Homo sapiens: one gene and its partner. The protein of the gene in region 2 purifies or fractionates together with the protein of the main gene of each other region. This does not show direct contact. Each region holds a gene or a part of one and is shown on either strand. Other genes may lie near its edges. The genes, in order: RBP1 and OR52N4.

Region 1 (3,827 bases), on a different chromosome or scaffold from region 2:
GAAGGCACTGACAAATGATGGGATGGGGCCAAGCATAAGGAGTGAGGGAAGGAATAGGGCTGGAGAGACAGGCAGGGCCATGATCTGAAGAGCCTGAGTGCCATCTGGCTTTTACCCATCAGCACTGGGAAGCCCTTGGGAATTTTGAGCTGGGGAGTAGCATGATCAGATTCCCTTTTTAGAAAGGGAGGGATGGGCTGAAGTGTTGAGCATGGTAAAATGGAGATGAATGTGAAGATACTGCAGTAATTAAATGAAATAATCCATGGAAAGCGCTGAGCCTGGCACACAGTAAGCACGAGAGATGTTAATTGTTATTATTATTACTGGCACGAGATATTCAGAGCAGTGGGAATGAAGAAAAACAGGAAGAGACGTTAAGAAGCAGAATCTATGGAACTTGGTGACTGAATGCCTATAAAAACTTTTCATTTATCTTCATAGTGATCATTTACACGGCTACATAGTGGTCTATGGAATTAAAAAGCCAGTCTTTCTAACCACCCATAGTTATTTGATATTTAGGTATACCAGCAGGAGACAGCCTGTTCTATAAAAACCATACAAAGTAGGGAATCAGAGACATCCGAAGTGAGATCACAAATCTATGGTTAATCAGTAATGTGAACCTGGGCAGGACCTTTGGCTCCCTGTCTGTAAAATGGGAGAGTAGCACCTCCTATCCAGGATTGTTAGGAGATTAAATAAACATAAAATGACAGGGCAGGGCCTGCCGCATAGTAGGCCCTGAGATAGTGGTTATGCTTCTGTGGGTTGTTGAGAATTATTATCACAGAGTGACTAACAGATACCTTTGTACAAATAGAGTGATTTTCCTGGAATATAATCCCATAAGTGGGATCCCTGAGTCAAAGAGTAAGATGATTTTCTGATTTATTGCACATTGTGAGAAGATTATTATTATTATTTTTTATTTTCTTAGTGCAGGACCAGTTCCACTGTAAAGCTGGCAAAGGTAGGTTTTGGAGACTGGGTTCCATGCCATCCCCACCTTCACACCCATCTTGTTTATACCATTCTTTCCCAGAGTATTCCTATGCTATCCTTGGACCCTCAGTTCAGGAAAGACAGAGGGAAGAAAGAGGGAAGGGGTGGGAAGAGGAAGGAAGAAAGGAAGAACGCACTAATCCCTGTATTAAAGGTAGCTGGCACCCTATGGTGTTTGCATTCTTGGAAACTACCTGCCACGTAGTGAGGAAGCCCAGGCACCCAGCAGAGAGTAAGTGTGGGTTAGCCATCTGGAAAGTGGATCCTCTACCTCCCCACTGGCAGGGCAGGCAGCAGGGACAAGGCATCCCCACTGAGCCCTGTCCAAATTGCAGATTTGTGAACAAAATAAATATTGTTGAGTTAGGGTACTAAGTTTCAGAGTGGTTTGTTACACAGCAACAGGAAACAGAAATAATTCATCACCATATTTAATTCTCACATAACTCCATTAGGTGGGTATTACCCTTGGCTCCTTTTACAAATGAGCACATTGAAGCTCAGAGGGATAAAGTACCCTTGCCAAGGAAACAGCTGTACGGCAGAACCAGGATTCAAATCCAGGTCCATCTCAAAGTCAAAGCTCCTAATTGCTCTGTTGTACCTCACACCTGTCCAGCTGCACACACTATTGGTATCACTTACTTGGACCCTCAATTGCAAACCACTGTGGGCTGCTGCAAGATTGAGGTCCCCAGGCAGTCTTCATCCCCCACTACCCTGATCCTGGGATGGAGCTACACCTACCTATTCTCATTCATCCCCTAGAACTAGGCACATTTTACCCCAGCACAGGCTTATTACATTGAATCATGATGAGAAAAATCACAGGAAACTAGGCACAGGCCAGCCTGCTTCCTTGTTTTTCTTTGTTAGTAGTTATCAAAAGCATGGTCCTTGAACCAACAGCATCAGCATCATCCAGGAACCTGTTAGAAAAACAAGTTCTCAAGCCTCACCCCAGACTTTCAGAATGAGAAATTCTAGGGGTAAGGCATGCTCAAATTTGAGAACCACTGCTCTAACTACTTATGTGGGTCTTAACGCTTGATATCTGGAGTTTGAATGTCTTAGGATGTTTTCAGATGCAAGTGGCAGGAAACCAATTCACATAACTTAAGGTGAAAGAAAAAAAATGTATTGGTTGAAGTACATGGAAAATCTAGGAATGGTGCGTCAGGAACTCTAGTAACCCTCTAATGTTGCATTCTCTCTGTCTCTATTGGCCTCATCTTTTACTTTCCTTCAATTGGATTTTTCCATGCAGCTAAGGAAGGTGGGGTAAGGGGACTGGCCTCAGAGAACACCAAGCTTACATCATAACAGCTCATCAACCTTTAACGGAATAGAACTCACCTGTCTCTCAGGGTTCCTAAATTAACTCCCAGGAAATGGTGACTGGCCCAGCTTGGGCCACATACACAAGTATGTGACAGGCCACGGGACACTGTGATCACCCTATCAGAAGGTGCTCTTCCCAGAAGAGACAGGGTACTATGATTTGCAGCCCCACCAGGACCCAAAAGGTTGAGGAGGAGTAATTCCCACCATAAAGAAAACAGTGCTTCTCTTGGGTGGGAGGTGGAGGAACAATGTTGGTCAGAAAAACAAACAGCTGTAATTCATTCAGTAAATACCTGGCCATCATAAGTGATTATGCCATGCCCCTCAGTCTCGGGTATCACAGGCCCTGGCCCTGTTCTCACATAGTATTGTGGCTTCCCAAGCTCATGTGCCCTGTACTATCTCTATGGTCCTCAGCTTTGCCTTGTGAGACACGCTGAGCAGCAATTATGATGCCCGTTTTGCAGATATGAAAACAAAGGCAGTGTGTCTAATCATTTAAGGCCGCTGTCAGATAATCGAGAAGAATTCAAATAGATGTTCTGACTCTAATACCGGTGCTCCTTTCACTCATCCTAGGCCTTGTCAAAACTGCCTGGGTTTACCTTCAGACTGTGAGAAGGCTCACAATAAGGAACTGAGGTGCTGGCCTTCAGCAAAGCTCTGTGGGAGACCTTGGGGTAGAGAGCTTTATAAACAGACTAATTAGAATTCTTCCTCTGCCACCAGCTAGCCCAAGGGTGACCTTGGGCTAAAAAGGCACTTCACTTCTTTGAGCCTCAGATTCTCATCTGTGAAATGAGTATAATGATACTTACTGAACAGCATTTGTTGTGGGGACCAAAGGAGAAAAAGTACAAAAAGCAATTGGGGCAGGCATGGCACTTAGTAAAGATTCAGTACATGTTATTTTCCTTTGTTCCTGCCTAACAAAACCCAAAACCCAACAAAGCAGTGTGATTTTTGAAAGCTACTTTGTGAATTTTATTTGGGTTGCTTTAATTCTTCTTTTTGTAATCCTCAAAAGCACGCTGCTGACACCGATTTCAAAGGTCGGAGAACTTTAGCTAAGACATGAAAGAGATCCTGTGTTTCTAGCCTGGAAAGGGCCCAGCTGAATGCCGGGTGCCTGATCTGGGCAGGGGCAGCTCTCAGAGGCTCCCACATCCAACGGCATTCTCAGCGCTGCAGCCCAGGGAGTTAATTTAGCCAGTGGCATTGTGTGTGCGTGTGTGTGTGTGTGTTTTTTAAAACAAATCAAAAAATCTCTTTAATGGGTCAAGAATAGGATCAGAAAGCTGGCAAGAGTTTAAACCAAAGTGTCAACAGTACTTTGTTGGATTTCATGTATTACCATATATAATTAGATGGATGGATGGATGGGTGGAGAAATAGAAGGATGTAAGTAAGGAAGTCAAGGGAGGGAAGGAAAGGAAACATAGACGGTTAAAAAAGAACTTAGAAAATCTGTAAGT
Region 2 (3,971 bases):
TAACATACATATGCAATTTTACAATTAATCCAATTACATGTTGATTGATTTTTACAACCTGAATCTTGTATATCTCACAACCAAATCAAGTAAGGGAATATGACCAGCAACTAACAGGACCCTTCTACCACATACTGCCTTTCAGTTATCACTCTCTCTCACTTTTTAAAAAGATTTTTCTATTTCTAATAGCACAGAATAATTTGATCCGTTTTTGTATTTCATTTAAAGATCACAAGATGTTACATCTATTTTAAGTCTTTCTAAAAAAAATTAACACATATTGTGAGATTCGTCTATATTATGCATATAGTCATAGATTGTTTATTCTTATTGTTACGTGGTATTTCATTGTGGGAATGTACCAAAATTTATTTACCCATTTGATGTTGATGAACATTTAGGTTTTTTCCAGTTTTAGGCTATACTACAAATCATGTTTCAATAAGCATTCTAATTGATGTATTCTAGTAAATATATATACATAGTTTTGTTGGAAATGGCAATGGTGGTCATGTGTATGTTTATCATTATGAGATATCTAATAAAGAGTTGTTCTAATTTACATGTCTACCAGCAGTAAATGAGAGTTCCAGTTGTTCTACATCTTTGCCAATGCTTGGTATTTTTAGTTCTTTTCATTTTAGCTGTCCTGTTTGGTATGTCACTACATACCAAAAAAAGGTGCTTTGTCATGAGAGATACAATTTTTACTTATTTTTCTGATTAATATAAAAGTTTGTGCCTATTTACCTGTTCATTGGCAATTTTATTTCTCTTTTGAAGTGTATGTTTCTTCCTGCAACTTTTTCTTACTGATGTTGTTGAAGTACTTTATATATTTTCTGTATGTATGCATTTGGATATCTTCTAGTTTGCGTTGACTAGATACATAAAGAACAAGAAAGATATCTTGAAAAGTGAAAAAATTGAATCAAAACTTCATTGACTTTTTTAATTTTAAATTTTTGTGGGCACATAGTAGGTGTATATATTTATGGGTGTATGAGATATTTTGATAGAAGCATACAATGTGTAATAATCCCTTTTAAAGGGCCGGGCACAGTGGCTCATGCCTGTAATCCCAGCACTTTGGGAGCCTGATGTGGGTGGATTACCTGAGGTCAGGAGTTGGAGACCAACCTGACCAATATAGTGAAACCCCATCTCTGCTAAAAATACAAAAATTAGCTGGGCGTGGTGGCATGTGCCTGTAGTCGCAGCTACTCGGGAGGCTAAGACAGGAGAATTGCTTGAATCCGGGAGGTGGAGGTTGCAGCCAAGATTGCGCCACTGCACTCCAGCCTGGGCAACAAAGCAAGACTCTGCCTCAAAAAAAAAAAAAAAAAAAAAAAAAAATCCCAGTAAAGTAAATAGGGGTATCCATCATCTCAAACATTTATCCTTTGTGTTACAGACAACCCAATTATATTATTTTAGTTATTTTAAAATATACAATTAAATTATTATTGAGTATAGACACCCAATAAATTTACTAATTTTTGAGACCCCAAGCTTCATTGAGTAATAATTTAATTAAAATTTCAAAATTCTTTGAACAGTGCCTGAGTACCCAAGAATAAATATCAGTCAGTCATTAAGAATAAAAATTAAAAAGTCAACATCTCATCTCTCAGATCATCAGTGAGGTAATCAAATGACTCTTCTTTAAAATTATATCTATATTGAGATGAGTATAGTTATAGTTAAGTAAGATATTCTAATAAAAATACCATTTGAAAAGTCAGAATTATACTTGATTATAAATCTATGAGATTGGGAATATGTCTTTTTATAAAATAATTGATGTTTGATTGGCATCTGTGTTGAAAACTTAGACTGCTCAATAAGAATTTTTTACTGAATCAATTAATTAATCAATCAATAAAACTAAACAGACAAACAAAATTATTTCTTGGCACTCAGAAATTTGGTTGTTGGACCATTAAAATGCATTATGGAATTTTTAAAAGTTGGGGGAGAGGGAGACAGTAAAAATAACCTATATTTTCTCTTGTTTTTTTTTTTAACTCTAGGAAAGCCCAGACAAATTTTGAGCTATTTCATAACCTACCAGACTTATCATGCTAACACTGAATAAAACAGACCTAATACCAGCTTCATTTATTCTGAATGGAGTCCCAGGACTGGAAGACACACAACTCTGGATTTCCTTCCCATTCTGCTCTATGTATGTTGTGGCTATGGTAGGGAATTGTGGACTCCTCTACCTCATTCACTATGAGGATGCCCTGCACAAACCCATGTACTACTTCTTGGCCATGCTTTCCTTTACTGACCTTGTTATGTGCTCTAGTACAATCCCTAAAGCCCTCTGCATCTTCTGGTTTCATCTCAAGGACATTGGATTTGATGAATGCCTTGTCCAGATGTTCTTCACCCACACCTTCACAGGGATGGAGTCTGGGGTGCTTATGCTTATGGCCCTGGATCGCTATGTGGCCATCTGCTACCCCTTACGCTATTCAACTATCCTCACCAATCCTGTAATTGCAAAGGTTGGGACTGCCACCTTCCTGAGAGGGGTATTACTCATTATTCCCTTTACTTTCCTCACCAAGCTCCTGCCCTACTGCAGAGGCAATATACTTCCCCATACCTACTGTGACCACATGTCTGTAGCCAAATTGTCCTGTGGTAATGTCAAGGTCAATGCCATCTATGGTCTGATGGTTGCCCTCCTGATTTGGGGCTTTGACATACTGTGTATCACCAACTCCTATACCATGATTCTCCGGGCAGTGGTCAGCCTCTCCTCAGCAGATGCTCGGCAGAAGGCCTTTAATACCTGCACTGCCCACATTTGTGCCATTGTTTTCTCCTATACTCCAGCTTTCTTCTCCTTCTTTTCCCACCGCTTTGGGGAACACATAATCCCCCCTTCTTGCCACATCATTGTAGCCAATATTTATCTGCTCCTACCACCCACTATGAACCCTATTGTCTATGGGGTGAAAACCAAACAGATACGAGACTGTGTCATAAGGATCCTTTCAGGTTCTAAGGATACCAAATCCTACAGCATGTGAATGAACACTTGCCAGGAGTGAGAAGAGAAGGAAAGAATTACTTCTATTTGCCTCTTATGCAGGAGTTCATAAAATCTTTCTGGAAGCACTGTATTGATCACAAAATGGAGTTTGTTAACTGGTGCATTCTCAATAAGTACCTTGGGAATCTCAACATCATTGGAAGGCCCACCAACATTTCTATAAATTTTTTACCTTCTCACTCATGTGAAGGACCAGTCTAATAATTAAACCATATTTTATTCGACAAAACCTAATGAGTCCATTTTTTATGAAAAGACAAATCTAAGTAGAAGGAGATGATGTGAGTCTTCTTTTCAATGATCACAATTTTCAGATTAATATTTCAGATTAATAGCCAGTTATTACTTTTGTCTAGAAAACATGTGCTATATATTTCTCATAACTACCAAAAACCTGTTTCTTCAATGACATTTTCCTGAAGGAGAATCTAGAGTGCATGCCATAAAGTCTAAAATGAGTTTTAAGTCTCTAAGCATCTAGCTAAAATATTATTAGGCTGAATAGGTCACATAATTATTTCACAACAGAATAATTGGATATTTCGTTTTCTTTAAAGGGGCTTTTTAAAAAGCACAGAGCCTGGAAAGAGAGGTAGAGATCTTAACCAAAAATAAAAAACAGTATAATTTTTTTCTAAGACCTGTATGAAAGGGGATCAAAATCTACTTGTTTCATTTTATCTCTAATTGTGAATCTAATAAGGAAAATTAGGTATATATTTCTAATATTTAAGATTTATCTAAATTAAAAAACAAGTGAGAAACTATAGAACATAGTATTTTCATATTAATGTCTCATAAACTAAGCCAATTATATAAGGAATATAAACTCAACTTTTACTGTTATTTTTCTGTGTCCAACTGACAAGAAAACATGTACTTCCCTGAAATTTAGTTA

The links.
Region 1: the proteins of OR52N4 (region 2) and RBP1 purify together in Homo sapiens (affinity purification with mass spectrometry; one large-scale study listed by BioGRID and IntAct). This does not show direct contact.

Annotation. Positions count from the first base shown.
Region 1 is NC_000003.12:139,529,685-139,533,511, forward strand, and holds part of RBP1 (retinol-binding protein 1), read right to left. Parts: intron 1-3,827. UniProt on the Homo sapiens protein: Cytoplasmic retinol-binding protein. Accepts retinol from the transport protein STRA6, and thereby contributes to retinol uptake, storage and retinoid homeostasis.
Region 2 is NC_000011.10:5,752,657-5,756,627, forward strand, and holds OR52N4 (olfactory receptor 52N4), read left to right. Parts: upstream 1-1,586; 5' UTR 1,587-1,649; intron 1,650-2,036; 5' UTR 2,037-2,084; coding exon 2,085-3,050; 3' UTR 3,051-3,302; downstream 3,303-3,971. UniProt on the Homo sapiens protein: Odorant receptor.